Linked DNA regions of Homo sapiens: all the other regions are linked to region 2. Evidence: fine-mapped expression QTL. A gene starts in region 2. Each other region holds a variant in brackets. All regions are shown on one strand. Distances are from middle to middle.

The links.
Region 1: its variant is fine-mapped to the expression of SPECC1L in whole blood (INTERVAL, PIP above 0.99).
Region 3: its variant is fine-mapped to the expression of SPECC1L in monocytes after LPS (Fairfax 2014, PIP 0.95).
Region 4: its variant is fine-mapped to the expression of SPECC1L in whole blood (INTERVAL, PIP above 0.99).

Annotation. Positions count from the first base shown.
Region 1 is chr22:24,372,201-24,380,306 of GRCh38, forward strand. All of the region lies in intron 14 of SPECC1L (sperm antigen with calponin homology and coiled-coil domains 1 like), which reads left to right. All of the region lies in intron 15 of SPECC1L-ADORA2A (SPECC1L-ADORA2A readthrough (NMD candidate)), which reads left to right. Among named protein-coding and RNA genes, the nearest start is that of ADORA2A, 51 kb to the right of the region's middle. The variant C/A (reference allele first, on the strand shown) is at 3,754.
Region 2 is chr22:24,267,175-24,275,280 of GRCh38, forward strand. SPECC1L (sperm antigen with calponin homology and coiled-coil domains 1 like) reads left to right here and starts at 3,657. Exons shown (of 17, transcript NM_015330.6): 1 at 3,657-3,809. It overlaps SPECC1L-ADORA2A (SPECC1L-ADORA2A readthrough (NMD candidate)), which reads left to right and starts at 3,643. Exons shown (of 20, transcript NR_103546.1): 1 at 3,643-3,809. It also overlaps the pseudogene RPS10P29. RefSeq lists a silencer at 3,446-3,975 and enhancers at 4,036-4,115, 7,950-7,999.
Region 3 is chr22:24,528,452-24,536,557 of GRCh38, forward strand. No RefSeq gene overlaps it. Among named protein-coding and RNA genes, the nearest start is that of GUCD1, 23 kb to the right of the region's middle. The variant C/CT (reference allele first, on the strand shown) is at 4,632.
Region 4 is chr22:24,388,407-24,396,512 of GRCh38, forward strand. The region is part of intron 14 of SPECC1L (sperm antigen with calponin homology and coiled-coil domains 1 like); the gene reads left to right. All of the region lies in intron 15 of SPECC1L-ADORA2A (SPECC1L-ADORA2A readthrough (NMD candidate)), which reads left to right. It overlaps LOC105372960 (a long non-coding RNA gene), which reads right to left. Exons shown (of 2, transcript XR_938082.3): 2 at 5,808-5,930. Among named protein-coding and RNA genes, the nearest start is that of ADORA2A, 35 kb to the right of the region's middle. The variant A/C (reference allele first, on the strand shown) is at 4,323.

The sequences.
Region 1 (8,106 bases), 110 kb after region 2:
GTACAAGGAGGAGCTGGTACCATTCATTCCGAAATTATTCCAATCAATAGAAAAAGAGGGAATACTCCCTAACTCGTTTTATGAGGCCAGCATCATCCTGATACCAAAGCCTGGCAGAGACACAACAAAAAAAGAGAATTTTAGATCAATATCCCTGATGAACATTGATGCAAAAATCCTCAATAAAATACTGGCAAACGAAATCCAGCTGCTGCTGGATCCACCATGATCATGTGGGCTTCATCCCTGGGATGCAAGGCTGGTTCAACATACGCAAATCAATAAATGTAATCCAGCATATAAACAGAACCAGTGACAAAAACCATATGATTATCTCAATAGATGCAGAAAAGGCCTTTGACAAAATTCAACAACACTTCATGCTAAAAACTCTCAATAAATTAGGTATTGATGGGACGTATCTCAAAATAATAAGAGCTATCTATGGCAAACCCACAGCCAATATCATACTGAATGGGTAAAAACTGGAAGCGTTCCCTTTGAAAACTGGCACAAGACAGGGATGCCCTCTCTCACCACTCCTATTCAACATAGTGTTGGAAGTTCTGGCCAGGGCAGTCAGGCAGGAGAAAGAAATAAAGAGTATTCAGTTAGGAAAAGAGGAAGTCAAATTGTCCCTGTTTGCAGATGACATGATTATATATCTAGAAAACTCCATCATCTCAGCCCAGAATCTCCTTAAGCTGATAGGCAACTTCAGCAAAGTCTCAGGATACAAAATCAATGTGCAAAAATCACAAGCATTCTTATACACCAATATCAGACAAACTGAGAGCCAAATCATGAGTGAACTCCCATTCACAATTGCTTCAAAGAGAATAAAATACCTAGGAATGCAACTTATAAGGGACATGAAGGACCTCTTCAAGGAGAACTACAAACCACTGCTCAATGAAATAAAAGAGGATACAAACAAATGGAAGAACGTTCCATGCTCATGGGTAGGAAGAATCAATATCATGAAAATGGCCATACTGCCCAAGGTAATTTATAGATTCAGTGCCATCCCCATCAAGCTACCAATGACTTTCTTCACAGAATTGGAAAAAACTACTTTAAAGTTCATATGGAACCAAAAAAGGCCTGCATTGCCAAGTCAATCCTAAGCCAAAAGAACAAAGCTGGAGGCATCACACTACCTGACTTCAAACTATACTACAAGGCTACAGTAACCAAAACAGCATGGTACTGGTACCAAAATAGAGATATAGACCAATGGAACAGAACAGAGCCCTCAGAAATAATGCTGCATATCTACAACCATCTGATCTTTGACAGACCTGACAAAAACAAGAAATGGGGAAAGGATTCCCTATTTAATAAATGGTGCTGGGAAAACTGGCTAGCCATATGTAGAAAGCTGAAACTGCATCCCTTCCTTACACTTTATGCAAAAATTAATTCAAGATGGATTAAAGACTTAAATGTTAGACCTAAAACCATAAAAACCCTAGAAGAAAACCTAGGCAATACCATTCAGGACATAGGCATGGGCAAGGACTTCATGTTTAAAACACCAAAAGCAATGGCAACAAAAGCGAAAATTGACAAATGGGATCTAATTAAACTAAAGAGCTTCTGCACAGCAAAAGAAACTACCATCAGAGTGAACAGGCAACCTACAGAATGGGAGAAAATTTTCGCAATCTACTCATGTGACAAAGGGCTAATATCCAGAATCTACAATGAACTCAAACAAATATACAAGAAAAAAAAAATCCCATCAACAAGTGGGCGAAGGATATGAACAGACACTTCTCAAAAGAAGACATTTATGCAGCCAAAAGACACATGAAAAAATGCTCATTATCACTGGCCATCAGAGAAATGCAAATCAAAACCACAATGAGATACCATCTCACACCAGTTAGAATGGCGATCATTAAAAAGTCAGGAAACAACAGGTGCTGGAGAGGATGTGGAGAAATAGGAACACTTTTACACTGTTGGTGGGACTGTAAACTAGTTCAACCATTGTGAAAGTCAGTGTGGCGATTCCTCAGGGATCTAGAACTAGAAATACCATTTGACCCAGCCATCCCATTACTGGGTATATACCCAAAGGATTATAAATCATGCTGCTATAAAGACACATGCACACGTATGTTTATTGCAGCACTATTCACAATAGCAAAGACTTGGAACCAAGCCAAATGCCCAAGAATGATAGACTGGATTAAGAAAATGTGGCACATATACACCATGGAATACTATGCAGCCATAAAAAATGATGAGTTCATGTCCTTTGTAGGGACACGGATGAAGCTGGAAACCATCATTCTCAGCAAACTATCGCAAGGACAAAAAAAAACAAACACTGCATGTTCTCACTCATAGGTGGGAATTGAACAATGAGAACACATGGACACAGGAAGGGGAACATAACACACAGGGGCCTGTTGTGGGGTGGGGGGAGGGGGGAGGGATAGCATTAGGAGATATACCTAATGTTAAATGACGAGTTGATGGGTGCAGCACACCAACATGGCACATGTATACATATGTAACTAACCTGCACCTTGTGCACATGTACCCTAAAACTTAAAGTATAATTTAAAAAAAAAGGAAGTAGAAAAAAGATAAGCTAAACCCAAAATAAGCAGAAGGAAGGAAATAAAGATTAGAGCCAAAATAAATAAAATAGAAAATAGAAAAACAATAGAGAAGATCAATGAAAAAAAAATGGGTTCTTTGAAAAGATAAACAAATTGACAAACCTCTAAGTAGATAGATAAAAAGAAAACGAAGACTAAAGTTACCAAAATCAGGAATAAAGGGACGTTACTAATGACCTTAAGAAATAAAAAGGATTAAAATGGAATACTGTGAACAATGAATGCCAAAAATTGGATAACTTAGATGATATGGACAAATTCCTAGAAACATTAACTATCAAAATGGACTCAAGAAGCAAGAACATCTGGAGAGACAAATAACAACTAATGAGATTGAGTTAGTAATCAAAATACTTCCAGCAAAGAGAAGCCCAGGACCAGATTACTTTACTGGTTAATTCTTCCAAATTTTAAAAGAGGAATTAATAGCAATACTTCTCAAACTCTTCCAAAAATCAAAGAAAATATTACTTCCTAACTCATTCTGTGAGGCCATCATTACTCTCATACCAAAAACGGAAAAAGATATTACAAAAAAAGAAAACTGTAAAAGCCCTTGACAAAATAATGACAATATCCAGCAGTATATTAAAGAGGATTATACACCCTGACCAAGTGTTCTTTATCCCAGCAATGCAAGGTTGGTTCAACATATGAAAATGAATTAATACTGTAATACCATATTATTAGAATAAAGGGGAAAAAACCGCATGATCATCTCACTAGACACTGTAAAAGCATTTGGTAAAATCCAGCAGCCATTTATGATTTTAAAAACTAGGAATAAAAGGTAATTTTCTCAATCTAATAAAGGGTACCTATGAAAACCCACAGTTGGCTGGGCACAGTGGCTTATGCCTGTAATCCCAGTACTTTGGGAGGCCAAGGCGGGTGATCAGTTGAGGCCAGGAGTTCAAGACCAGCCTAGGCAACATGCAAAACTCCATCTTTACTAATACAAAAACTAGCCAGGTGTAGTGGCACACACCTGTAATGCCAGCTACTTGGGAGGCTGAGACATGAGAATGACTTGAACCTGCGAGGTGGAGGTTGCAGTGAGCTGATAACACACCACTGCACTCCAGCCTGGGTGACAGAGTGAGACTCTGTCTCAAAA[C/A]AAACAAACAAACAAACAAAAAAAACAAAAAAAACCCACAGTTTTAACATTATACTTAATGGTGAAGACTGAAAGCTTTCCCCTTAAGATCAGGAACAAGAAAGAATGTCGTTTATCACCATTTCTATTCAACATTTTTCTGCAAGTTCTAGCTAAGACAGACAAGAAAAAAGGAAAGAAAAGGCATCCAGATAGGAAAAAAAGTAAAATGATCTCTATTTGCAGATGATGTGATTTATGTCTAGATTTTTTTAAGAGATAGGGTCTCACTATGTTGCCCAGTCTAGGTTCAGACTTCTGGGCTCAAGTGGTCCTCCCACTTCCAACATCGTGAGTAGCTGGGACTACAGGTGTAGGCCATCACATCCAGCTTATATCTAGAAAACCTTTAAGAATTCACATAAAAACTGTTGGAACTAGTAAATCCAGAAAAGTTGAAGATGCAAGATCAGTATACAAAACTCACTTGCATTTACATATAGTAACAGTAAATTAAAACATTCCATTTATAGCAGCATCAAAAAGAATAAACTATTTAGGAATAAATTTAACCAAGGAGGCACAAGTCTAATACACTGAAAAATACAAAACATTGCTGAAAGAAATTAAAATCTAAATAAATGGAAAGACATACCTTGTTCATGGATTAGAAGTTCTGATACATGCTGCAACTTGGATGAACTTTGAATATTTTATGCTAAGGGAAAGAAGCCGAACATAAAACTTCAACCTAAAAAGACTTCCACACTCAGGCCTGAAAAGTCTCAAGTTTTGTTGAACGGCAGGAACGTGAATACTGGCAGTTTCAAGTTGGTTGTAGAACTGAAACCTCAAGCATAAGTGAAAATTACACAATCACCTAGTTTTTTTTTTTTCTTAAGAAAGAACTTTTTTTATTGAGATATGCCACACAAGATACAATTCAGCCACTTAAAATGTACATTTCAGTGGGTTTTTGTTTTTTTTTTAAGTGTATTCAGAGTTGTATAACCATTACCACAACCAGTTTTAGGCTATTTTTACCACTCCATAAAGAAATCCTATACCCATTAGCATTCATTCTCTATTTACTATAGGCAACCACTAATCTACTTTCTGTCCTATAGATTTCTTTATTATGGACATTTCCTATAAATGGAATCACACAATATGTGGTCCTCTGTGACTGGCTTCTTTCACTTAGCATCATGTTTTTAAGGTTCATCCATGCTGTAGCATATACTAGTACCTCATTCCTTTTTATGGCCAAACAATATTCCATTGTATGGATATGCCACATATTTATCCATTCTTCTGTTCAAGATGGTGTTTGTGTTGCTTACACTTTTGGGGGGGTTATTATAAATGTCACTGTTAAGAACTTTTTTTTTTCGACATGAGGTCTCACTATGTTTCCCAGGCTGGTCTCAAGTGATCTTCCCACCTCAGCCTCCCAAGTAGCTGGATCTACAGGCACATCCCACCATGCCTGGTTTGTTGTAGACATTTGTGTACAACAAATTTTTACATGGACGTATGTAGTTTTCTCATCTTCTTGTCCATCTTCTAGCCTACTACCAAAGTGTTTTTGAAATTGATCTTGTTACTTCTCTTTAAGCTGCTTCATTTGTTTCCCCTTTGTCATTTGGTTAAAGTCCATGATCTTGGCTTGAAGAGGCAAGACCCCATAGTTTATTGAACATTTTAAGCCCACTCCTTGATCTATGAGCTGCAGAATGGATGTTGTATTAGCAGACAGGAAAACAACATTAATCTCCTCGTATCATCATTAGAGCTCCTGGCTGACTGGTTACATTGTCAATGAGCAGTAATATTTTGAAAGGAACAGTGGGCTTAAAATGTTCGATAACTATGCTGTCAACAGATGTGCTGTCATCCAGGCTTTGTTGTTCCATTTATAGAGCACAGGCAGAGTAGATGTAGCATAACTCTTAAGGGCCCTAGGATTGTGGGACTGGTAAATGAGCATTGGCTTCCACTTAAAGTCACCAGCTGCTTAGGCCCTAATGAGAGAGACAGCCTGTCCTTTGAAGCTTTGAAGCCAGGCATTGACTTCTCCTCTGTAGCTATGAAAGTCCTAGATGTCATCTTCTTTTAATAGAAGGCTGTTTTATCCACATTGAAAATTGTTGTTTAGTGTGGCCACCTTCATCAGTGATCTTAGCTAGATCTTCTGGGTAACTTGCTGCAGCTTCTGTATCAGCACTTGCTAGCTTCGCCTTGCACTTATATGTTATGGAGATGGCTTCTTTCCTTCAATATCATGAGCCAACCTCTGCTAGCTTCAAACTTTTCTTCTGCAGCTTCGTCACCAATCTCAGCATTTATAGAATTGAAGAGAGTTAGGGCCTTGCTGTGGATTCAGCTTTGGCTTAAGGGAATGTTGTAGCTGGTTTGATCTTTTATTCAAAGCACGGAAACTTTCTCCATATCAGCAATAAGGCTGTTTTGCTATCTTATCATTTGTATATTCAGTGGTATAGCACTTTTAATTTCCTTCAAGAACTTTTCCTCTGCATTCACAACTTGGCTAACTGGCACAAGTGGCCTAACTTTCAGCCTTTTGGCTTTTGCCGTGCTTTTCTCAATTAGCTTAAGCATTTCTAGATTTTGATTTAAAGTGAAAGATGTGCGAGTCTTCCTTTTACTTGAACACTTAGAGGCCATTGTAGGGTTATTAATTGGCCTAATTTTAATATTTTTATATCTCAAGGAATAGGGAAGCCCAAGGAGAGGGAGAGAGACAGAATGGCTAGTCAGTGGATCATTCAGAACACACAGAACTTTATAGATTAAGTTCACTGTCTTATATGGGCACAGTTCATGGCACCCCAAAACAATTACTATAGTAACATCAAAGACCACTGGTCATACATCACCATAACAGTTATAATAATAATGAGAAAGTTTAAAATATTGCAAGAATTACCAAACTTGACCCAGAGACATTGAAGTGAGCACATACTGTTGGCAAGATGATACCAACAGACTTGTTTGATACAGGATTGCCACAAACCCTCAATTTGTAAAAAACGCAGGATCCATGAAGCACAAGAAGATGAAGTACCATCTGAGGTGTGTCTGTATTTTCTTCCATGCTGTTAGGTGTCTTCATATAACCTAAGTTTTAAATTTTGCTAGACAATAACTTAAATTAAGTAATTTTAGAACATTATAAATTACTTCCCCCTTGAAGGATCGCTTGTGATTAGGAGTTTGAGACCAGCGTTGGCAACATAGTGAGATCTTCTCTCTATTAAAATTTAAAAAAAAAAATAGCCAGGCATGGTAGCAATCCTCCTACCTCAGCCCAGCTACTTGGAGGGCTGAGGCAGGAGGATTACTTGAGCCGGGAAGTTGAGGCTGCTGTGAGCCATTATTGTACCACTGCACTCCTGCCTGGACAACAGAGCAAGACCCTGTCTCCGAGAAAAAAGAAAAAAAAAAATTTACTTCCTCTTGATTATAGAACTTTCCCATGTATCAGGTTGATTAAATGGAGATAATTCAAACATTAAGTCAGTTATTCCATGCCTCTTGGATTCTTCTATGTTTACCTTAATATATAGAGAGAAATATATATACATACAAATAAACTAATAATTTGAAGTTTTTTCCATTTACTTGGTACTTAAAATGCAGGGGGAAATATGATATAGGATGGTTAATCATACATTAGGAAAATTCTTTTTGTACACTTGACAGTCTTGGCTACAAACCCAATTCTCTGCTTTCTCATTTCCTATCGACACTTCTTTGATGATACATATGTATGGCTTGTGGGAGGCAGTTGGCTTTTGTTTCCTGTGAGACAGATATCTATCTGTTCCTTCCCTTTAGAAGCAAAGAGGATACTGGTTCTTTCATTGCAAGATCTGTAAGTTAACATTGGACAGCCTGAAATGCATAATCTTTTGTTTTTGTTTTTGAGACAGAATCTCACTCTGTCACCCAGGCTGGAGTGCAATGGCACAATCTCGGCTCACTGCAGCCTCCATCTCCTGGGATGCATCTCCATCTCCTTCTCCTGCCTCAGCCTCCAGAGTAACTGGGATTACAGGCACCTGCCACCCCGCCCAGCTAATTTTTGTATTCTTAGTGGAGATGGGGTTTCACCATGTTTGCCAGGCTGGTCTTGAACTCCTGACCTCAAGTGACCCACCCTCCTCAGCCTCCCAAAGTGCTGGGATTAAAGGCGTGAGCCACTGCACCTGGTCTGAAATGCATAATCTTTTAAAACTGAAAGCCATATCTAATAGTGTTCTTAATTTGTCAAGAATCGTATGAGAAGTGCCAGTGCCCTTTGCCTGTCTAGCTATAAATGGATGATCATGCCCATCCTTTGGAGCCAGC
Region 2 (8,106 bases):
ACAGATCACTTGAGGTCAGGAGTTTGAGACCAGCCTGGCCAACATGGTGAAACTCCGTCTCTACTAAAAATATGAAAATGGCCAGGTGTGGTGGCTCACCCTGGTAATCCCAGCACTTTGGGAGGCTGAGGCGGGCGGATCACCTGAGGTCAGGAGTTCGAGAACAGCATGACCAACATGGAGAAACCCCATCTCTACTAAGAATATAAAATTAGCCTGGTGTAGTGGCGCATGCCTGTCATCCCAGCCACTCAGGAGGCTGAGGCAGGAGAATTGCTTGAACCCGGGAGATGGAGGTTGTGCCGAGCCGAGATTGCGCCATTATACTCCAGCCTGGGCAACAACAGCAAAACTTTGTCTCACAAAAAGAAACAACAACAACAGCAACAACAAAACACACACACAAAAATTAGCTGGGTGTGGTGGTGGGTGCCTATAATCCCAGTTACTCAGGAGGCTGAGGCACGAGAATTGCTTGAACCTGAGAGGCGGAGGTCGCAGTGAGCCAAGATCAGGCCACTGCACTCCAGCCTGGGCAATAGAGCAAGACTCAATCTCTAAATAAATATATAAAATAAATAAACAGTATTAAGACAAAAATCATAAGGACATTACATAAACCACGTTATGCCAGTGATTTTTTAAAATATCAAAACAGGCAGTTTTATAGAAAAATACAACTTCAGGCCAGGTGGGGTGCTTGTAATCCCAGCACTTTGGGAGGCCGAGGTTGGTGGATCACCTGATCTCAGGAGTTCGAGACCAGCCTGGCCAGCATAGCAAAACCCCAACTCTACCAAAAATACAAAAATTAGCTGGGCGTGGTGGCACATGCTTGTAACCCTAGCTACTTGGGAGGCTGAGGCGGGAGAATCACTTGAACCTGGGAGGAGGAGGTTGCAGTGAGCCAAGATCACGTGACTGCAACAGAGAAATTCTGTCTCAAAAGAAAAATATAACTTCATAAAAACGAAGTAGGGAGAAACAGAAAAGTTTGTCTAGATCTAGAACCATCAAAGGAATTGAATGTTTATTTTAAAATCTGTATCCCGGCCGGGCGCAGTGGCTCAAGCCTGTAATCCCAGCACTTTGGGAGGACGAGGTGGGCGGATCACAAGGTCAGAAGATCGAGACCATCCTGGCTAACATGGTGAAACCCCATCTCTACTAAAAATACAAAAAATTAGCCGGGCCTGGTGGTGGGTGCCTGTAGTCCCAGCTACTCGGGAGCCTGAGGCAGGAGAATGGCGTGAACCCGGGAGGCGGAGCTGGCAGTGAGCCGAGATGGTGCCACTGCACTCCAGCCTGGGCGACAGAGCGAGACTCCGTCTCAAAAAAAAAAAAAAAAAAAAAAAAATCTGTATCCCATCCCCTCAAAAATCTCACAAAAAAACAAAACCAAAGAAAAGTACCTGGCCCAGATGATTTTATGGACAGCAAACATTAAAAAGAACATAAAGTTTTTATCTTCTACATAATTTTTAAAAATTAATTATTTATTTTTGACAGAAAGTCTCGCTTTGTAGCCCAGACTGGAGTGCAGTGGCGTGATCTCTGCTCACTGCAACCTCTGCCTCCCAGGTTCAAGCAATTATCCTGCCTCAGCCTCCAGAGTAGCTGGGATTACAGGTGTGCCCGGCTAATTTTTTGTATTTTTAGTAGAGATGGGGTTTCACCATGTTGGCCAGGCTGTTCTTGAACTCCCGACCTCCGGTAATCCGCCCACCTCGGCCTCCCAAAATGCTAGTTTTACAAGCGTAGGCCACAGTGCCCAGCCTAGATAATCTTTCAGAAAAAGAAGCAAATGGAATTCTCCCCAACTCACTGTGAATTTAGTATAGGCTTAAAACCAAACCAGACATAAATAGTACAAGGAGGCAAAAGTATGGACTAACTTCTTATGGACATATATGCAAAAACGCTAAATAAAATATTAGCAAATAATCCAGCAATGGATTAAACATGTATCACGACCAAGTTGGGGTTTTCCTAGGAAACTAAGATTATGTAATAAAAGAAAAAACTATTAAAGTAGTACAAACTATCAAAGGAAAAAACCTGTATGATCATTGCAACAGGTTCATTTGCGACATAATACAATTTTTTTCTTTTTTTTTTTTTAAGTCTTTTTGGCTGTAAGTTTATTCAATGCAAAATAATCCTCTCCAATTCTACTGAGGTGGCTGACGGTGTCCACGACCAAATTTGCCTCTAAACTGGAATTCGGTTGCTGACCCAGCCCCAGCCTCGGCTTTCTTGTCGGCACCAGGGGGCACAGCACTCCTTCTGTAGGTATCTCTGTCGGCTTCTCCTCTTGTGAGTCTTGCAGGTCGCTCACCCTCCAGACCTTTAGACCGAGGCCTGCCAGTCCCTGGACGGCTGCGGCGTAGGGTGGCAGGCACAATCTCCAGGGGCAGATGAAGGTAATCACGGAGATACTGGATATCCTCATTGGTAAGGTACCAGTAGACATGTCTCCAGGCAAACTGTTCCTTCACGTAGTAGCCTCGGGACTACATGACAGGAAGGTTGGGCACACACATTCTTTTTTTTTTGAGAGGAGTCTCACTCTGTCGCCCAGGCTGGAGTGCAGGGGCGCGATCTCGGCTCACTGCAACCTCCGCCCCCTGGGTTCAAGCAATTCTCCTGCCTTGGCCTCCCGACTAGCTGGGATTACAGGTGTCTGCCACCGCGCCTGGCTAATATTTTTGTATTTTTAGTAGACACGGGTTTCACCATCTTGGCCAGGCTGGTCTTGAACTCCTGACCTCGTGATCCGCCCGCCTCGGCCTCCCAAAGTGCTGGGATTACAGGCCTAAGCCACCGCGCCCGGCCGGGCACATTCTTGTCTGCCAACTCCAGGTGCTTAGGCATGTGGACATCCTTCTTGACCACCGTGACTTCCTCTTTAAAAAGGAGTTCATAAATGGCAATCCGGTTTTTCTTAGGCATCAGCATTCTGGGGAGGAGCAGCCGCTAAGGTGGCAGGGTGGCCCGGATGGGGGCCGATGGAACTCGAACTCCCCCAGAATTTCTTTAATATTTTATATATATATATATATATATATACATATATATATGTATATATATACACATATATATACATATATATATACGTATATATATATGTATATATATACATATATATATACGTATATATATATACGTATATATATATGTATATACATATATATATACATATATGTTGCTCGCTTATTCTTTTTGTCTGTTCCCTTATGTACCGGGAGTGCCAGGAGGACAGGGCTTTGTGTTTTCCTCACTGCTGTCTGGCTCATGCATAGCACAGTCCTTGGCACACGGTAAACACGCTGAGGAGAACTTTTGGGACTAGCGGACTCTGAGCATCATTCCGCTGGGCCCAGTGGGGCCTCTGAAGGGACCCGCCTTGCCCGGCTCCAGCCCAAGACCTGAGGCATGCGCACCGGCTGGCCGGCTACTTTCTTGACCGGCCAAGTGGCAGAGCGGCTGCGCGACCCAGTGCCGAGACGGACGCGAGCCGGAGATGGGGGAAGGGGAGGGGGTGGTGGTGGGGGACGGCGGCGCCTGCGCAGTGAAGGAATGTAGGCGGGGCCTCCACGACGCCTGCGCAGACGGCCGCAGCCCTGCTGGGCGCGAAGGGGCTGGCCAAGGGCGGGGCCCGCGAGGGAGGCCGGGCGGCCCGGCAAGCGGCGCTGCGGGGTAGGCTGCTTTCCTGAGGCCGGACTCAACGGGTCTCGGCTGAGCCACCGGGTGAGCTCACCGCCCAGCCCAAACCAGGAGATTGCGAGGGAGCGATGCGGTGCAGCGCGGTAAGAGCAGCAGCCGGGTTCCCGCAGTGTTCGCTGGCGGGTTGGTTTATCGCCTCAGCGCCGCCCGCGCTGCCGCGCCCGGGCGTCCCCGCAGACCCCGGCAGGCCCAGCGCCTGCGCCGTCTCTGCTCCTGGGCCCCTCCAGTGTGTCCCGCGCCTGCGCCTTTCCCTTCCCGCGCCGTCCTCGTTCTGGGCTTCGGGGCTTCTGGAACAACCCGCAGGCTTCGCCGCCGAGACCCACTGGCCTTCGTCCGTTGGTGTTGGGGTTCAGCTGGTTCTGGGACCCCGCTTGCGGCTTGACTGTGTGCAGACAGGCCGGGTGCGACCCTCGTGCTTGCCTTTCCGCCGCTCCGGGAGAGGCTGGGGCTGCCGCCCCATCGCCCGGGTCCCTTGCCTGGGGCGGGGACAGCGTTGTTCAGTGGCCCCGAGGGCGCAGAGCGGAGGAGCAGGGGCCACAGGCGGCGGACCCCGGGCCTGCTGCCGGTGCTGCTTCTGCTGTGGCCGGCGCCCGAGGCGGACGGAACGTCCTTTTTTCTTGAGACGTGGTTAATTGCATCAGGTTGGATGTGAATAATCCGGTACCTGTCTGAGGAAATTTTGCGTTTCCAGGAATTTGGTAATTGTATTACCTTAAGTAGTTAAGTCTAAGACATCATAGTCGCGGCACGTTGGGCAAGCTGCCCTGGAGATGACGAAAAGAAATCAGTTTCCAGTAGTTTTAGCCCATTTACAGAACACGCAAAAATTCTGTGATCATTCAAATGCGGGGAACCTTGATTTGTTGATATCCTTGATCATTTGTCCAAGTACCAGAAGGGCGAGGAAAAGATTCCCGTGAACAGCCCAGGTGATTTCAGGGAACAGTGTTTTCTTTTGTCAAAAGAGCCTCTTAAGCCATGATAATATTTCCCAAGCTTATAACAGATACAAGCCTTTAAAAAATGGCATTTGCTGTCACCCAGTAGGACACATCTTGAGATGAAATCAGAGCTGTAGGCTTTGTAGACAACAGCAGTCATTTCTGGTGGCTTCAGGGAGTGGAGGGGGACTGCAATTTTGCCAATGTAGGTGATACCAAAGGGACTATAGTAATTTTTTCTTCGTAATTAAAAACCAGGCCAGGCGCGGTGCCTCATGCCTGTAATCCCAGCACTTTGGGAGGCCGGGGCGGGCGGATCACCTGAAGTCAGGAGTTCAAGACCAGCCTGACCAACATGGTGAAATCCTGTCTCTACTAAAAATACAAAAAGCGCGCGCCTGTAATCCCAGCTACTCAGGAGGGTGAGGCAGGAGAATCGCTTGAACCCGGGAGGCGGAGGTTGCAGTGAGCCGAGTTCGCGCCACTGTACCCCAGCCTGGGCTACAGAGCGAGGCTCCGTCTCAAAAAAACAAAAACCAGATATAACAAGGCCGAGCTCCCTGGCTCACGCCTGTAATCACAGTAGTTTGGGAGGCCGAGGCGGGTGGATCACCTGAGGTTAGGAGTTCGATACCAGCCTGGCCAACATGGTGAAACCCCGTCTCTACAAAAAATATAAAAATTAGTCGGGCGTGGTGGCACACGCTTGTGATCCCAGCGGCTCGGGAGGCCGAGACAGGAGAATTGCTTAGGAGGCAGAGGGTGCAGTGAACCGAGGTCTCGCCACTGCACTCCAGCCTGGGCGACAGAGTGAGACTCTGTCTCAAAAAAAAAAAAAAACAGCTATTACAATATACATGTATGTTGTAAAATAACCAAACCAACATAGAAGGGTATATAGTGAAAGGAGAAGTATTGTTGTGGGTAAAATTGTTTCAATAAATGGCTAATCCAGTATTTTTTTCCTCCAAAAAAACACCTTTTCCCCTTTGATTTAGTGTATACCACACAGAGTCGCTTAGCCGATTCAGTGACTTTTTTGATAGCTGGAGAATGCTTCCTAATGGTTGCAGGTGTGTAGGGGTTTTCTTGACATTTTCAGTAAGAAAGTGAATGTTGTGCCATAGGAAAGCTTTATCACAGGTGCACGTTGGTAGCCAACTAAATAACGTGAGTGTCAAGTACAGTATCTAGTGAGTGGAGAATAACTGTAATAATTACAATTACAGTTGTAGTTAAAGTGAAGTTTGTATCAAAATTTCTGTTTCAAAGGTGAACTTTTAGGAGGTGTATCTGCGGTGTTTCTTCCTCAGATGTGATTTCTCTGAAGCAGTGGTTCTCTATAACTGACTTGACACACAGTGCATCTGATATTTCGAATGACTTAAGTGATAGTATCAAAATTACTATCATATACATATTTAAATCACATGACTAACCTGTGTGTGGTATTATGCAAACTGCTCAGCTCAGTAAGGGAACAGAAATAAGAAAAAAAGGACAATATTGGGAGTCTTTTATACAATTCAATTTATTCAATTGAAGGACTATCTTTTCTTTAAAAAAGTTCTGCTTTCTTGGTGTTAAAATAAAGCATCTTTTATGAAATGATGGTGATAGTAAATGGTGATATATGGTAAACGTAAATAGTAAATGCAAGGGTAGTTATTGTGATTTTTAAAAATAAAGAGAGCCGAGAATCTCTTGTTTTCCTGCTGCTGTTAGGGAGTTCAGGAAAAAGTTCCTGGGGCTTTTGCTGTTAAGAAGATTCAAATATAGAGTATTTCTTAAGAGTAAATATGAGTTTATTTTGAGATCATTGGTCACAGTCTACTGAGAAATCCACTGAGAAAGCTGTTAAATTTGCATGGCATTAAAGATGTTCCTATTCTGATCATTGTTAAATAGATCTTTTTTATTAGATATAATTGTTTTTGAGACAGTTTCGCTCTTGTTGCCCAGGCTGGAGTCTAATGGCATGATCTCCGCTCACCGCAACCTACGCCTCCCAGGTTCAAGCGATTCTCCTGCCTCAGCCTCCCAAGTAGGTGGGATTACAGGCATGTGCCACCACCCCTGGCTGATTTTGTATTTTTAGTAGAGACAGGGTTTTTCCATGTTGGTCAGGCTGGTCTGGAACTCCCGACCTCAGGTGATCCGCCTGCCTTGGCCTCCCAAAGTGCTGAGATTACAGGCACTAGCCACCTCACCCAGCCCCAGGAGATTTTTTTGTGTTGTGCCAACAAATAAGCCTAGGCAGGGAAATTCTTTCTGGTGGTTGGAATTGTTAGTACTGAATAGACTAGATGCGAGGTAAAGAACCCCCATGGGGTTTTCTGTCAGCTCAGAAATCATTGTGACCTCAGTCTTTTACTGTGAAATAACATGACCATTAGGAAAGTAGCCTTAAACAACGTATTTTGGGTATGTTGAGAGGGAGGGACAATTATGATCTGTTCCAAAGTGAACATAACAGATGATCCCTGTGTCTGTGAAGCCTTTAAAATTTATAGTGCTCTTCTATTAATTTCAAGTAAGATTTAGAGTTATTGTGACATACTCTTAAAAAACCTGCAGTGTATCAAAAGGCACGTTTTTAAAGCATCTTGAAATGAAATTAATAATGTAATATCTACTTCTTCAGAATAGTAGTTTTTACATTCTGAAGACTGACTGACTGCTCTCAGCCACTTCTGAGTTCTCTATTTTCAAAGAATAATTTGGTATTCCATAAAGGAAATCTGTAAATAAGAGAAGAGAGTGAATATCTTTTAACAGTGTTTTTCCTGATCTTTTCCAAACATCTTCATTGTGGTTCTGTCCTTTATTTTTTGGTTAAATCCAGAGGTTTACTTCTGCCTGTATCTTTCCAAACTATTAATCTGTTCACAATCACTTTCCCATTTAAACCCTTCAGCAGCCCCAGTACCTTCGTAATAAGGTCTCCTTAGCTTGGTATCCAGAACACTTCAATACTGGGCTTTGACCCCTGTTCTCCTTCCCCTACCTCTGTTTAGGTGCTTCACTGAGCTGCACTGAACAGCTCTTGGCCCCTTGAAATCTCTGCAGTCTCCTTGTCTCCCTCTGCTGGAATATTCTTCTCTCACTTCATCTGATCATTGCCTTCAAAACTCAGCTCATTTTCTTATTTCCTTGCCCTTTTCATGTCCCTTGTTTTCCTCCGATTAAATTAATGTTCCAAACTCAAAAGAAAAACAACTCAGCTCAGGCATCACCTTGCCTGGAAGGCTTCCCTAGTCCTCCTGCCTCCTGCAGACTTGTCTGGCACCCTGTGCATTTGGGATTTGGCACACTATGTCTCGTCTGCGGCCTCCACTGGACAATGAGACCGTAAGTGTGTGGCTTGACAGAAAGTTGTTGACTCTGCTGGGGTGCTGGTACAGTGCTGGGCACGGCAGTGTTACAGAGGAAGTGAGCC
Region 3 (8,106 bases), 260 kb after region 2:
ACAAGAAATTGCAGTGGTTCAGTGTACATGGCCTGCAGGCCTGTGGGCCCCTGTGCAATCTTGGATGAAGCCTTCTGACCCCTCAGTTTTCTCACCGGTAAGATAACAGGTGGCTGGGCTCAAGAATTTCTCCCTAGAAATTCTCAGTTCTGGAAGGCCACCTTCCTGCCAGGCTATAGCTTTATTGCCGGAATCTGGGGTGGAGTAGGTGAACTTCAGTGTGCCCAAAAGAAAAAAAGGAGGCTGTGCACAGTGGCTCACATCTGTAATCCCAGCACTTTGGGAGGCTGAGACAGGGGGATCACTTGAGCTCAGGAGTTGAAGACCAGCCTGGACAACATAGACCTTGTCTCTATAAAATTTAAAAAAAATTAATAGGAAAAAAAGGGCTAAGGCATTATTAAATATAAACCAGACCACGTATTAGACCACAAAAAATTCCCAGTAAACTTAAAGATTAAAATCATAAAAGTGTATTTTCCCATCACAATGGAACAAAACTAGAAATCAGTAGTTGAAAGTTTTAAAAATTAAACAATGGCCGGGTGCGGTGGCTCACGCCTGTAATCCCAGCACTTTGGGAGGCCGAGGCAGGTGGATCCCAAGGTCAGGAGATTGAGACCATCCTGGCTCACACAGTGAAACCCCATCTCTACTAAAAATACAAAAAATTAGCCAGGTGTGGTGGCAGGTGCCCGTAGTCCCAGCTACTCGGGAGGCTGAGGCAGGAGAATGTGAACCTGGGAGATGGAGCTTTCAGTGAGCCAAGATTGCCCCACTGCACTCCAGCCTGGGAGACAGAGCAAGACTCCATCTCAAAAAAAAAAAAAAAAAAATTAACACACTTTTTGTTTTCTGAGACAGAGTCTTGTTCTGACACAACTGTGGCTCACTGCAATCTCCGCCTCCCAGGTTCAAGTGATTCTCGTACCTCACCCTCCCAAATAGCTGGGACTACAGGCACATGCCACCATGCCTGGCTAATTTTTGTATTTTTAGTAGAGACAGGGTTTTGCCGTGTTGGCCAGGCTGGTTTTGAACTCCTGGTCTCAAGTGATCCGCCCGCCTCAACCTCCCAAAGTGCTGAGATTACAGGCATCAGCCACCCTTCCTGACCAACAACACACTTTTAAACAACCAATGGATCAAAAAAGAAATCATAAGGGAAGTTAGATATCTTGAGACACATGAAACAAAAACACACCGAAACCTGTGGGATACAGCAAAAGCAGTACTGAAAGAAATTTATAGCTATAAATGCTTACATTTAAAAAGAAGAGTCTAGGCATGGTGGTTCCCACCCATAATTCCAGCACTTTAGGAGGCTGAGGTGGGAGAATTGCCTGGCCCCTCTACAAAAAATTTAAAAATTAGCCAGGGATGGTGGTGCACACCTATAGTCCCAGCTATTCCAGAGGCTGAGGTGAGAGGATTGCTTGAGCCCAGGAGTTTGAGGCTGCAGTGAGCTAAGTGAGCTATGATGGCACCACTGCACTCTAGCTTGAGCAACAGAGCAAGATCCTGTCTCTAAAAAAAAAAAAACAAACAAACAAAACCAACTGAACTGTACACATTATTTACACATTAAGGCACAAAAAAAGAGCAAATGAAAGAGCTAACAGAAGGAAGCCAATAAGAACAGAGCTAGAAGGAAGATAACAGAGCTAGAGAATAGAAAAAGAAAAAAAGAGAAAGTCAACAAAATCAAAAGTTGCTTCGTCAAAAAGATCAACAAAATTGACAACCTTTAGCTAGATTGAGTAAGAAAAAGAGTCAAATTACTAAAAGGAGAAATGAAAATCGGGACACTACTACCAATTCTACAGAAGTAAAAAGGGTTATAAAGTACTACAGACAGTTGTATGGAAACAAACTGGATAGCCTAGATTAAATGGGCAAATTCCAGCTGGGCATGGTGGCTCAAATCTGTAATCCCAGCACTTTGGGAGGCCGAGACCGGTGGATCACTTGAGGTCAGGAGTTCAAGACCAACCTGGCCAACATGGTGAAACCCTGTCTCACTAAAAATACAAAAATTAGCTGGGTGTGGTGGCGTGCGCCTGTACTCCCAGCTACTTGGGAGGCTGAGGCACGAGAATCACTTGAACCCGAGAAACAGACGTTGCAGTGAGCCAAGATTGTGCCACTGCACTCCAGCTTGGGCGACACAGAGTGAGATTCTGTCTCGAAAATAAATAAATGAATGAATGAGTGAATGAATGAATAGGCAAAGTCCTAAAAACAAAACCTACCAAGATTGAGTCATGAAGAAATATTAAAAAGCACAAACATCAGATCAAAAACTGAATAGTCAGAGATTTTACTCTATTTGCAAGCTAGGTTAGCCTACTGCAGTAGTTTCACAGATGCTCATAGAAGATGTACTTTTTTTTTTTTGAGATGGAGCCTCGCTCTGTTGCCCAGGCTGAAGTGCAGTGGTGCAATCTCAGCTCACTGCAACCTCTGCCTCCTGGGTTCAAATGATTCTCCTGCTTCAGCCTCCTGAGTAGCTGGAATTACAGGCTCCTGCCACCACACCCGGCTAATTTTTGTATTTTTAGTAGAGACAGGATTTCACCATGTTGGCCAAGCTGGTCTCAAACTCCTGTCCTCAGGTGATCCACCCACCTTGGCCTCCCAAAGTGCTAGGATTACAGGCGTGAGTCACTGCACCCAACCAGACAAGACACTCTTGGGTCAGACACAAAGGACAGTTTATTACAGCAATAGCAGTAGCCAGAGTACCAGCATTTTCTTACAGCCATTTCCCAAGCCCAGTTCCCTTAGGGCAACACAAAGAGGACCAAGTGAATCCTGCACATGCAGTGGGTTTTATTGAGGAAAGGAGGAGGGAAGAGAGCTAACAGAATTTGCGTCTTTTATATTGGATGGTTGGTATGCCTTCCCTTTGCACTAACAGGAGGCATTATCTCCACCAAGGTCACAAGAACACCTGTCCTTTGCTCTGTAGATGCAAAGCACCTGTGTCTATCTTCCAAGGCTATGCCAGCTTCTTTGAAAAGATAGTCTAGAACAAAGGCCTTCATAGTTTTAGCTGACAAGACACATACAGAAATGTGAGAGACCTGTGGACAATTATCTCCCAATAATATCCACCCCTCATTTCCACATTGTCTTGGCTTCTGGCAATTTTCTTATGGGTATGCCATTTTATCAGTCACTGATTAATCTGACAATAGGCATAGAGCAAATCAGTTCAGCTTGTCTCACAGAATTTAATTTAATGAACAGCATTTCAACAGAATGAGTCCAACCTGCAATATTAACCCCAATCCTGACCCCAGGGTTTTCTTTTTTTCCTTTATTTCTTTTTTTGAGACGGAGTCTCACTCTGTCGCCCAGGCTGGAGTGCAGTGGTGCGATTTCGGCTCACTGCAAGCTCCGCCTCCCGGGTTCATACCATTCTCCTGCCTCAGCCTCCTGAGTAGCTGGGACTACAGACACCCACCACCACACCCGGCTAATTTTGTTTTTGTATTTTTAGTAGAGATGGGGTTTCACCATGTTAGCCAGGATGGTCTTGATCTCCTGACCTCGTGATCCACCCACCTCGGCCTCCCAAAGTGCTGGGATTACAGGCATGAGCCACTGCGCCCGGCTGACCCCAGGGTTTTCAACTCAACAGGTTGAACAAATCCTATAAACCATCAAGGTCTACCTAAGAAAGCCAGGTGACTTTCTCAAATATTGACCTTTCCACTCAGCCCAAGTCATTAATCCAGGTACAGCAGGATATATTAGATATTGCATAATCTCCACTGGTGGTTCACAGGGAGGAAGCCTAGGGCAACTCTGTCATCCATACAACCTCCACCCTGGCCAGTGAGTTGCCGCTGACCTGAATGCCTTCCAGGGGCAAGGTGGTACCACTGATCACCCAACTAAAGTTAGAGACAAATGTTGCATCACCTTTCCTAATCAGAGGACTCCCATCATAGGGATAATAAGTGCACATAAGGAATGAGTCAATTATCAGTCCAAGAAGTTCCCCTGAGTAAACAAGGGCAGCCTCACTTTAGAAAGATCTTCACAGTTGTCAGCTGGGTGCGATGGCTCACGCCTGCAATCCTAGCACTTTGGGAGGCCAAGGCAGGTGGATCACCTGAGGTCAGGAGTTCAAGACCAGCCTGGCCAACATGGTGAAACCCTGTCTCTACCAAAAGTACAAAAAAATTAGCTGGGCGTAGTGGCAGGCGCCTGTAATCCCAGCTCCTTGGGAGGCTGAGGCAGGAGAATCGCTTGAACCTGGGAAGCAGAGGTTGCAGTAAGCCGAGATCACGCCACTGCACTCCAGCCTGCATGACAGAGCAAGACTCCATCTCAAAAAAAAAAAAAAAAAAAATCTCCACAGTTGTCTGTGGGCTACATAATCTATTGGTGGTATTTGCTTAAACACTTGAAGGTCTCTTGACCACCCTGAAGGGGCAAGACACTATTTTGGGGAGGATGATGAGTTAATGTTTAGCCTCCACACAAGTACAGTCACAAGGGCACATATCGTTACCCCTAGAAAATATTTATAATTGTTGGAGGTCCCCCAAGTGGGACCTATATTTGTTGGAGCACAGGTCCTGGCCACCTGGTGGGGCTTCAGGTTCCCAGTTTACTTT[C/CT]TTTTTTTTTTTTTTTTTTTTGAGCTGAAGTTTCGCTCTTGTCACCCAGGCTGGAATGCGGTGGCGCGATCTCAGCTCACTGCACTCTCCCTGCTAGGTTCAAGTGATTCTCCTGCCTCAGCCTCCCAAGTAGCTTCCCAGTTTGAATAATTCAGTCTAGTCCTTGTATTTGGAAGGACAGCCTGAGGGCAGTTAGTCCAATCTATCCCATTTGTCCATACCACTAGCAAGGTGGCACTCGTTCTCTCCACAGAATGGCTGAGTGGAGTCTATGGGAATAGGGATGGGAACGACAACTGATGGTATCACAGGTGATTTTCATGGAAGGTGCAGGAGCCAGGGACATCCCCTGCTCTTTCCAGTGGACTTCTGGTAAGGTTAATGGGAATGGTGAGCAAACCAAATGGTGGCCAAAGCCATCTGTTGTTGGGGCAAGGCAGAACCCACAGTCGTTAAATTTGTTTTATTTGAGACAGGTTCTCAGTCTTGCCCAGGCTGGAGTGCAGTGGTGCCATCACAGCTCCCTGCAGCCTTGAATTCCTTGCCTCAAGCGATCCTCCCCTGCAACTTCCCAAGTAGCTGGGATTACAGGCAGGAGCCGCTATGCCCAGCTTTGCAGTCAGTTAAATTTGAGGTGCTTGCAAAAGCTTGGGAGAGCTGCACAGATCTTTTTTATGTTCATAAGGAAGTCTTCAGGGGCAATTATGAAGGACAAAGATCATAAATGCCTCCCCCTCTTTATCTCCTGGAATCCAAAGTATTTTCTGTCTAGGTGCCAGAATTGCTGCTCCCCCTCCCAAATCGGTGTCTCATTTCAATACCTATAGTCACTTCTTTAAGGAAAAAGAGGTGACTGGACTGACCAGTACCAGCCACCTCCTTTTCCAGTTATCCCCTTTGTGCACCTAGACTTTTTGATTCGAAGAGTCAGGTCCAAGAGGAACAAGGGCATGTTTACAAAATGCGTGGGGACCCATTATGTTCCCCACTTTGTCCTGTATGTGCCACCCTAAGGGGTCTCAGCGAGCAGCGTACTTGCCCAAGTGGTCATTATTCTTATGCTCTAAGACCATGTCAGTCCAACAAGAGAATCCAGGTGGCTGAAACACAATCAGGTTTGAGCCCCTAGACCCCCTTACAGTTGGACTGCCATCTAGGAGGTGTGCCCACCAGGCTGGCCTGGGATTGCTGCCAGGGGAAAGCAAGCAAGCAACACGCCCAGGAAGAGTCTGATCAGAATCCCAAATTTTAAAAATATTTCTTTATAACCTTCCTACACCTCTTCATTCAGACACACCTTGCTAGGAAGTAGCCTTTTTAAAGACAGCTGCATTTGGTGACCAAAATGTTTTAATAGGGCCAGGCGCATTGGCTCATACCTGAAATCCCAGCACTTTGGGAGGCTGAGATGGGAGGACTGCTTGAGGCCAGGAGTTCGAGACCAACTTGGTCAACATGGCAAGACCCCATCTCTACTTAGAAAAAGAAAAAGTGGGGTGCAGTAGCTCACATCTTTAATCCCAGCACTTTGGGAGGCTGAGGCGGGTGGATCTCTTGAGGTCTGGAGTTCAAGACTAGCATGGCCAACATGGGGAAACCCTGTCTCTACTAAAAATACAAAAATTAGCTGGACATGGTGGCGTGTGCCTGTAATCCAAGCTACTTGGGAGGCTGAGGCAGGAGAATGGCTTGAACTCGAGAGGCAGAGCCAAGATCGCACCACTGCACTCCAGCCTGGGCGACAGAGCGAGACTCTGTCTTGAAAAACAAAAACAAAACAAAATGCTTTATGAAAGTGTGTGGACCAGGAAGGAGGGAGAAAAGTAGAGTCAGAGACCTTGAGTTGATTTTTTTTTTTTTTTTTTTTTGAGACGGACTCTTGCTCTGTCACCCAGGCTGGAGTGCAGTGGCGTGATCTCGGGTCACTGCAACCTCCGCCTCCCATGTTCAAGCGATTCTCCTGCCTCAGCCTTCAGAGTAGCTGGGATTACAGGCACCCGCCACCATGCCCAGCTAATGTTTGTATTTTTAGTAGAGATGGGGTTTCTCCACGTTGCTCAGGCTGGTCTCGAACTCCCAACCTCAGGTGATCTGCCTGCCTCGGCCTCCCAAAGTGCTGAGATTACAGGCATGAGCCACCGCACCCGGCCCAGTTTTTGAGGAAGCCATTCCAATACTCAACAATGCCAGAATCTCATGATGGCAGGAGTGTGGAAGATCTTTTGAATACCACTATTGTTGAGTGGCTTTTATGATAAAAGGTGCACCATTGTCACACTGCAGATGGTCCAGAGAGCCAAAACATGACACAGATTAGTTTCAGGGGTTGCAGTGGTATGCCCAGAGCTGGTTGATAGGACTGCAACAATCCAATAACCTGAAAAAGTGTCAACAGTGGTAAGGCACCACCAATAGCCCCAAGAGGTCAAAGGTCTAATGGAGTTGATCTGCCATGAGTAGGCTGAGGCCACGCCCTGTGCAAGATGACCTCCTCCTATGCAAGAGAAATGGGCCAACCTTTGGTAGGAATCACAGCCTGGTATGTGGTGGTAGCGTCTGCATCAGAAATAGTCCTTTCCAGCTGGGTGCGGTGGCTCATGCCTGTAATCCCAGCATTTTGGAAAGCCAAGGTGGGTGGATCACTTGAGGTCAGGAGTTCGAGACCAGCCTGGCCAACATGGTGAAACGCTGTCTCTACTAAAAATACAAAAATTAACTAGGCATGGTTGTGCGTGCCTGTAATCCCAGCTACTTGGGAGGCTGAGGCAGGAGAATCATTTGAACCTGGGAGGCGGAGGTTGTGGTGAGCCGAGATGGTGCCACTGCACTCCAGCCTGGGCGACAGAGTGAAACTCCATCTCAAAAAAACAAGCAAAACCCCCCCACACACATACACAAATAGTATTTTCCATTGTGCCCAGTCCATGGTGGTGGATGTGTTGCCATGTCCGGCATAATGATGGATCCCAGTAGCAATATGGCTAGTGCAGGCTCCCTCAACAGCCTTATTTCCGTTGGTCTAATCAGAGAACAGGCTTCAACCATGGACATCTACATGTGTGACCCAGACAGAGCAATCACAGCCAAAACTTATTTCCATAGTTCATGACCCCAAAGATGGGTGTCTTTAATCTGCCAGTTGAGGTTTTCTAAGTGTCAGACCGAACACCTAGGCCATTGGCAACACCCCAAGAGTCAGTAAAAATATAACAAGGGTTACCAAGAGGAGTATTGGCTCAGGGCCTACTGAGCAGAGTTACTCATCAATTTTCTGTTCTGCGCAGCTGTTTCTGAGGGTGAACAGCCACAGCAGCCCTGTGGACACCATGAGGCTTCCACTTCATCAGACCATCAGTGAACCAGGCCCTGGCATTTAGGAGAACCTCTGTGAACTTAGGTTCCTGTTGACCCAGTGACTTTGCTTTGGTGGAGTGGGGGATATAAGTGTCCCCCAAAGGGTTAGCTGCCAGTTTTT
Region 4 (8,106 bases), 120 kb after region 2:
ACATGAACTCATCATTTTTTATGGCTGCATAGTATTCCATGGTGTATATGTGCCACATTTTCTTAATCCAGTCTATCATTGTTGGACATTTGGCTTGGTTCCAAGTCTTTGCTATTGTGAATAGTGCCGCAATAAACATACGTGTGCATGTGTCTTTATAGCAGCATGATTTATAATCCTTTGGGTATATATCCAGTAATGGGATGGCTGGGTCAAATGGTATTTCTAGTTCTAGATCCCTGAGGAATCGCCAAACTGACTTCCACAATGGTTGAACTAGTTTAATCACATCTGCAAACTCTCTTGCCATGTAAATAAACATGTTCATAAGTTCCAGAGATTAAGACATCAACAGCTTATGGGCCTACCACAGATATCTTATAAAAGTTAACTTCTGAGAGTTGAGTTTCTAAGATTTAGTTGTGTTATTTTTTTTACAACTCCCGTACCATACAACTCACCAAGTTGGACAGTTCAGTGGTTTTTAGTATATGCACAGAGTTGTATAATCATCATCACAATGAATTTTAGAATATTCTTACCACCTCACAGCCCTAGGCAGCCACCATGGGTTTGCCTGTCCCAGACATTTCATGTAACTGGAATCATTTGTGGTCTTTTGTCACTGGCATCTTTCATGTACCATATTTTTGAGGTTCTTCCACGTGGCATGTGTTAGTACTTCACTCCTTTCTATAACTGATTTTTTTTTTTTTTTTTTTTTTGGAGACAGAGTTTCACTCTTGTCACCCAGGCTGGAGAGCCAATGGTGCGATCTTGGCTTACTGCAACCTCTGCCTCCTGGGTTCAAGCGATTCTCCTGCTTCAGCCTCCCAAGTAGCTGGGATTACAGGTGCATGCCACCATGGCCGGCTAATGTTTGTATTTTTAGTAGGGACAGGGTTTCACCATGTTGGCCAGGCTGGTCTCAAACTTGACCTCAGGTGATCCACCCACCTCAACCCCCCAAAGTGCTGATTACAGATGTGAGCCACTGTGTCTGGCCAATAATACTTCTTAGTTTGTTGTTTGCCTTTGGTTGATTTGCCCTAAAATGGTAATTTGTGACACTTTTGTCCAGGTTTATATTTGTGTTTGTGGGGGCTTTCGGGTTTTTTTTTTTTTTAGGGAAAGGATCTATCTACCTCTTTGCTCTACTGCAGCCAGAAGTTTCCTAGCATGCGTCATTTTGGGATTCTTTTTTATTTTCCCTACCCTCTTTCCTAAGCAAGGAAAAGAAGTACTTACCTTTATTCTCCCAGAATTGTGTGTCCCCATAGATTGAAGAATCAATAGAGTGAGAACTAGTGAACAGATAAAAATAGCTCAGTCCTTCACAGCTTCCTTTGTAATAATAGAAATAGGAGACAAATAGGAGAAAAAGGAAGTGCTCTTTATAAATTGTATGAAGTATTAAGTATGGTACTTGCTACCTGCACAACCCAGGCATGAGATTAGCACTTGGTGTTAGTCACACCCCCTTAGGCCACTACTCATTGCCACCATTTCAAAGCCTGTGGGTTGAGTAGATTCTTATATAAAGGTGACTTTCCTAACCTAAAGAGATTGGGCCCAAAAGCACAAGTTTCTTCTGATTCTTCCTAGACACTACATACTGGAAAAGACAAGGGAATAGAGACGCTTCCTTTTCACATGTCATCCCTCTTTCCCTTATGTGTCCAGCCTTGAAGGGGAATGTTATTTCTACTCATCCCCTACCCCAACCCTTAAAAAAAAAAAAAAAAGAGGACTTTAGTTTCCTCTCTGGAAAACATTCCAGAATGCCGCTCTTCCCCTGATCCTTCCTTTTCTCACCCTTCCACCTTCCTAGCGTCCTCTCTCCATGATCAGAGTTAGGACTGGGCTAGGGGTGTGTGGCATGAGAAAGGTTAGAGAAAGCTGGGAGTTCTTCCAGTAGACAGAATGCTGTTAAAATAATGCATTAGGAATTCCTCATAGTCCAAGCAGAGCTTAGTTGGTTTAATTTCCTCTTCTATAACTGGAATCTTAGGTCACAGGAATTACTTCCCAGAGTTAAAAAATAAAAAAAGGTGCTGGCAGTAGATAAGAGTTTTGATCTGAATCAAATCTAGGTTGAAAGTCTAAATCTTTTCATTTTACATTGTCACTTGCATGGAAACTAAGTATACAGAAAGATCTTATTGTTTGTAAATATCAGTGTGTTCCAGGGGTTAAAAATACTTGAACAAAGGGGAACAAGAATGGCCAGCCTTGCGTCCCACCCATTCTTTATGTGGACTGTGTCTACTCATAAGTTCTCCACAGTGAAGCAATAAAAACTCCTGGAGTCTAATCATTTTCTGTCCTGATGACAAGGTATCTTCATCCCGAAGGCTCAGCGGTTGGCCAAGAGCTTCACATTTCTTGGAGCCACCGGGGAATAGAAACAGCTTGTATCTCAGGGCTCTTCTTGGGCCTGTGTTCCTTTTTTTTTTTTTTCTTTTCTTTTTTTTTTTTTTTTTTTTTTTTTTGAGTCAGAGTCTCACTCTGTCGCCCAGACTGAAGTGGAGCGATCTCGGCTCACTGCAACCTCTGCCTCCTGGGTTCAAGCGATTCTCCTGCCTCAGCCTCCTGAGTAGCTGGGATTACAGGCGCATGCCAGCAAACCCAGCTAATTTTTTGTATTTTTAGTAGAGACGGGGTTTCACCCTGTTAGCAAGGATGGTCTCAATCTCCTGATCTTGGGATCCGCCCGCCTTGGCCTCCCAAAGTGCTGGGATTACGGGTGTGAGCCACTGCGCCCGGCCGGGCCTGTGTTCTTTACTGCACACAGCAGAGGTTAATTGATGGCTTTTCTGTCCCAGTGAAGTGAAAGAACTCTTTCCTGTTTTCAGGGCATTCCTTTTAATGTCAAACATAGCAGCTGGGAAACAAAGTTTTCCCAGAATCACAGTGTACTTACTGCATTCTGTTTAAACATGATCTTGATAGCTACTATTAACATCTATTTCCAGAAATTTCAGGGCTGTAATTTTAAAAATCAGTTGCTTAGTGCCATTACCATAAATGAGTTTGATCAGTGTGTTTTGTGTGTGGTAGATGAGACTACTCAGTCAAGGCTTTTCTCCCCTGGATGACACAAATTAGATCCTCCCAAACAGGGGAAGGAGTGGAGGCCTTGTATACAGCACCAGTCCTTAAATGCTCATTTCACTCCCCTCACTGTGAGCATTTTTCAGAGCTGCATTCAGGACCGGTACATTTGGATTTGGAAAGAGAATTAGGAATGGTGCCCTGGCGGAGGCATGGTCTGTTGGCAGCAACAGCAGTAGCTTGGATGTACCTGTTGTTACTTCACCAACTAGATGGGCTACTGGCGGTGGGCAGACCTAAGCAGTTTGAATGGAACTCTACAGGGTTGTCTTCCCTTTAGCTCAAGGTTTTGTTCCTTTTTCTTGCATTCTTTTTCCATTTAACTTCCACTAATGACATGGAGAAAACCTGCCGAATGTAATAAAATGGTTTGTTTGCCAATGCTCTTGTTTAGCTTTAAGATAATTGTCTCAGGATGCATTTCCTTAGATAAAATGTGAAATACTTCATGTGAATCAGCACCCACATTCCATTCTCAGAAGTTAGAGGAAGTCAGACTTGAGACAGCCCCTAGAAATCACAAACCCAGGGCTTCCATTTCACATCTGCAAATCAGAAAGGTGCCATGCTTGCCTAAGACCATACAATTGGCTCTCCAAGCTCCCAGCCCCAGGCTCTTTCCACTGAGCTGTCCAGCCTCCACGGCAGTGTCCCAGACTCTTCAGTAAGTTTCCAGTAAGTAGGTATTTTTATTACGAGTAATGCTGAGAAACAGAAATCAGATAAGTAACATTTTCAAGAGCTGCCTAATTATTTTGCTAAAAGCAGAATCATTAAATTCTCTGGGTCAAATAATCTTTATGTATCATCTCAAATAACAGGCACAGTTCTTGACTTCCTTGCATCATGAGAAATCATTGTTTTCTTGTGCTTCATCCACTTTGGATGGGATGACAACATAAGGATGTGGCCTCCACAGACAAGTTGGAGTTCAACAGGTTGATTTCATTAGATACATGATTGCTCTGGATTTTCACAAATGAGTTTAGCCTGAGGTCATTCTGGCAATTTATGGTGACCTCTCCATTTGAGAAGCAGGTTATTTGTAAAGATGCCCTGTTGCTGCCTCATGATAAATGATTATGGGAAGGGTAATTAGCCATTAGACAACATAGGGCGGGAGAGAGAGAAACTAGTTTCCTTTCTGAATGCACTCTTTAGATTCAGTAGAAAAGAGGCTGGTTATCTATAAACACCACCCAAAACTT[A/C]ATGGCTTAACATAATGACGTCTATTTATATCCTGAGTTTACAGTTTGGGTGGGGCTTAGTGGGGATATCTCATCTCATCTCATCTCCGCTCTACTCAGCTCAGTGCCACTGGAGAGGTGGAACTAGCTGATGGCTCCCTCCCTTACAGGTCTGGTGGCTGTTGGCGGAGACTTTCACTAGACCTGTGGCCAGAGCACTTCTATGTAGCCTCTCCAATATTTGGTCTGCGCTTCCTCAAAATGTGGTGGCCACATTCCAAGGACAGTTGTCGAGAGGGAGAGACAGGCATAAGCCACCCCACCTTTGATGACACAGTCTTGGAAGCCATGCAGCATCTCTTCTACCATACTGTTTGTCAAGGCAGTTACAAGGGGAAGGGAAATAGGCGCCACCTTTTGATGGGGCATAGGAGGCTTCTGAAGAAGATGTGGGGCCAGAAATACTGCTGTGGTCATTTTTGGAAAATTTAATCTGCCACAGAGACTGTTATCTCTTACTTAAGTAATTAGAGAAGCTAATAATGTGACAGTGACCTGACAGAACCTTATGATGCTTTTTTAATGTTGCCTCACAAATGAGAGGGAATCTGGGTAGATGAGGCAATATGAGGGTGAGATTAAGTGGTGGTGTAGGGAAGAATGCTACATGATGTAAGCCAGGTGTGTTTGCAGCTGCAGGACTTTCTAGTGATTCACCTAAGATTTAGCTTATACCCTGGAACACACAAGATGACTTTCTGCCAGTTAGCGTCCACCCAGGATATCTTCCATCAGACATCAGCTTTTGACCAGGGTCCCTTGGACTGTGCCTGGACTGTATCCAGTTCTGCCATGGTTTATACCTGTACTACATTCAGTTAAAAAGCTCTAAAACAGAGAGAGCCTGTGTGGTACCTAAATGTGTTTGTGGCCTTGGGCTTCCTTTTTTTTAATAGTTGCATTGAGGTATAGTTGACATAATAAATTGCGTATAAAGTTTACAACTTGATAACTTTTGACATACATATACATATATGTCACATATATACACCTGTGAAAGCTATCACCACATGATAGACAAACCATCACCATGAACATTTCCTCGTGCCCCTTTGTACTGCCGTCATCCTGCTTCTCCCCCACATTTCCCATCCCCACACAGCCACTGATCTGCTGTTGCTGTATATTGTTTGTATTTGTTATAGTTTTATATAAATAGAATCATAGTGTGTACAATTTTAGGGGAGTTCTGGCTCCTTTCACTTAGCACATTGAGATTCATTCATGTCATTGTGTGTAACCGTAGCTCATTTCCTTTTTTTCCCTGAGTGTTAGTCCATTTTTTGGGTTTACCACAATTATTAAGCCATTCAGCTGCTGATGGACATTTGGGTTGTTTCCAGTTATTGCTTATTGTAAGCAAAACTCCTATGAACGTTCACGTGCAGGTGTTCATATGGTGTCTTAGTCAGTTTGGACTACTGTAACAAAGTACCATAGCCTGGGTGGCTTATAAACAACAGAAATTTATTTCTCACAGGCCTAGAGGCTGGAAGTCTGAGATCAGGATGCCAGCATGGTGGGATTCTTGTGAGGGCATCTTCCAGGTTGCAGACTGCCATCTTGTGTCTTCACATGGTAGACATAAAGAGAATGAGAGAGCTGTCTGGGGTCCCTTTTAAAAGCACACTAATCCCGTTCATGGGGACTCCACCCTCATGACCGCATTACTTCCCAAAGAACCCCACCTCCCTATATTATCACATTGGGGATTAGGATTTCAACATAAGAATTTGGGGAAACAGGAATATTCAGTCCATTGCATATGCATAAGGACATCTGAAAAGTGGACTAGCTGCTGGATCATGTGGTAGGTATAGGTTGAACATTTTCAGAAGCTGCCCAACTGTCTTCCAGACTGGCTCTACCCTGTCACTTTACCACCAGCAGTGAAGGAGAATTCTAGTCCTTCATATCCTTGCCAAGACCATGTGGTCAGCCTCTAGACATTCGGAACGTGTAGTGCTGTTTCCTGGTTTTAATTTTGCAGTTGCCTGATAACTAATGGTGTTAAGCATCTTTCCACATGCTTATTTGCCACCGTATATCTTCTTTGTATTTTTTGTTTTGAGGGATTTTTTGAGACAGGGTCTCACTCTGTCACCCAGGCTGGAGTGCAGTGGTGCAATCATAGCTCACTGCAGCCTTGAACTCCTGGGCTCAATCGACCCTCCCACCTCAGCCTCCAAAGTAGCTGAGACTACAGGCATGCACAACCACACCTGGCTAACTTTTGTGTTTTTGTAGATAGGGTTTCATCATGTTGCCCAGGCTGGTATCAAACTCCTGGGCTCAAGTGATCTGCCTGCCTCAGCCTCCCAAAGTACTAAGATTACAGGCATGAGCCACAGCGCCTGGCCAGAAATTCTTAATTTTAATAACATGCAATTTATACATTTTTTCTTTTATGAAGCATACATGTGTTTGTGTTGTAAATAAAAAATGTTTGCATAACCCAAGATCACAACGATTTTCTCCTGAAAGTATAATTTTTTATACATTTTGGTCTGTACTTCATTTTGAGTTCATTTCCCAATACGATGTGAGGTATGGATTGAGGTGAACTTTTTGGCCTGTGGACTTAAGTTGGGAAGGTTGCATGTGATAGAGTGAAGGATTTAAGAGCACCTTGAAAACAGCCTGGTCACACTGACACATACAAGATGCCCCATAATACCAGAGAGGGACTGAGGGGAAAGGAAGAGGACATGTCTTCTCCAAGGAAGAGATATTTCATCAGGGTCAATGACAGCTGCTCCAGAAAAGACAGAGGAAGAAGAGCAGATTTGTTTAAGAGACATTTTCATGGATTGCAAAGGAAAGGATTTGGGGATCCACACTTTTTATCTCAATACTCTTCAGAGAAAATAATTTTTTTTTCTCTTTTTCAGACAGAATCTTGCTCTGTCTCCCAGGCTGGAGTGCAGTGGCGTGATATCAGCTCACTGGAACCTCTGCCTCCCAGTTTCAAGCAATTCTCGTGCCTCAGCCTCCCAAGAAGCTGGGATCAACAGGCATGCACCACCACGTCTGGCTAATTTTTTTGCATTTTTAATAGAGACAGGGTTTCACCATGTTGGCCAGGCTGGTCTCGAACTCTTGGCCTCAAGCAGTCTATAGTTTGAGAACCCCCTTGGCCTCTCAAAGTGCTGGGATTACAGGTGTGAGCCACCAAGCCTGGCCCAGAGAAAATACGGATTAAAAAAAGGCTTTGATCTTCTTTGGCTAGATGTTAGACCTCAAGTTATCAAGTAAGGCAAGATTCTGCTCTTGGCCTTGGGTGTCAAGTGACAGAGTGATTCTTTGGGTTTATAGCTCCTGCAGGGAACTGTCAGCGGATGCATCTTTGCAATGCTAGCTCTCTCCTTTAGGCATCTAAACTTGTGGAAATTTTTCTTTCAATGCTCTAAACCAGTCATGAAATACATATTTGACACTTGTTGTGCACAACCAGAGAGGTAGTTAAATACAAGGAGGAACAGAATGCAGTCTAGAGTATGACCTTTGCCCTCAAAGAACTTTCTGTGGTTTTTTTTTTTTGTTGTTGTTTTTTGTTTTTGAGACAGGGTCTCACTCTGTCACCCAGGCTGGAGTGCATTGGCTCACTGCAACCTCTGCTTCCCGGGTTCAAGCGATTCTCCTGCATCAGCCTCCTGAGTAGCTGGGATTACAGGCGTCTGCCACCACGCCCAGCTAATTTTTGTATTTTTAGTTGAGACAGAGTTTCACCATGTTGATCAGGCTG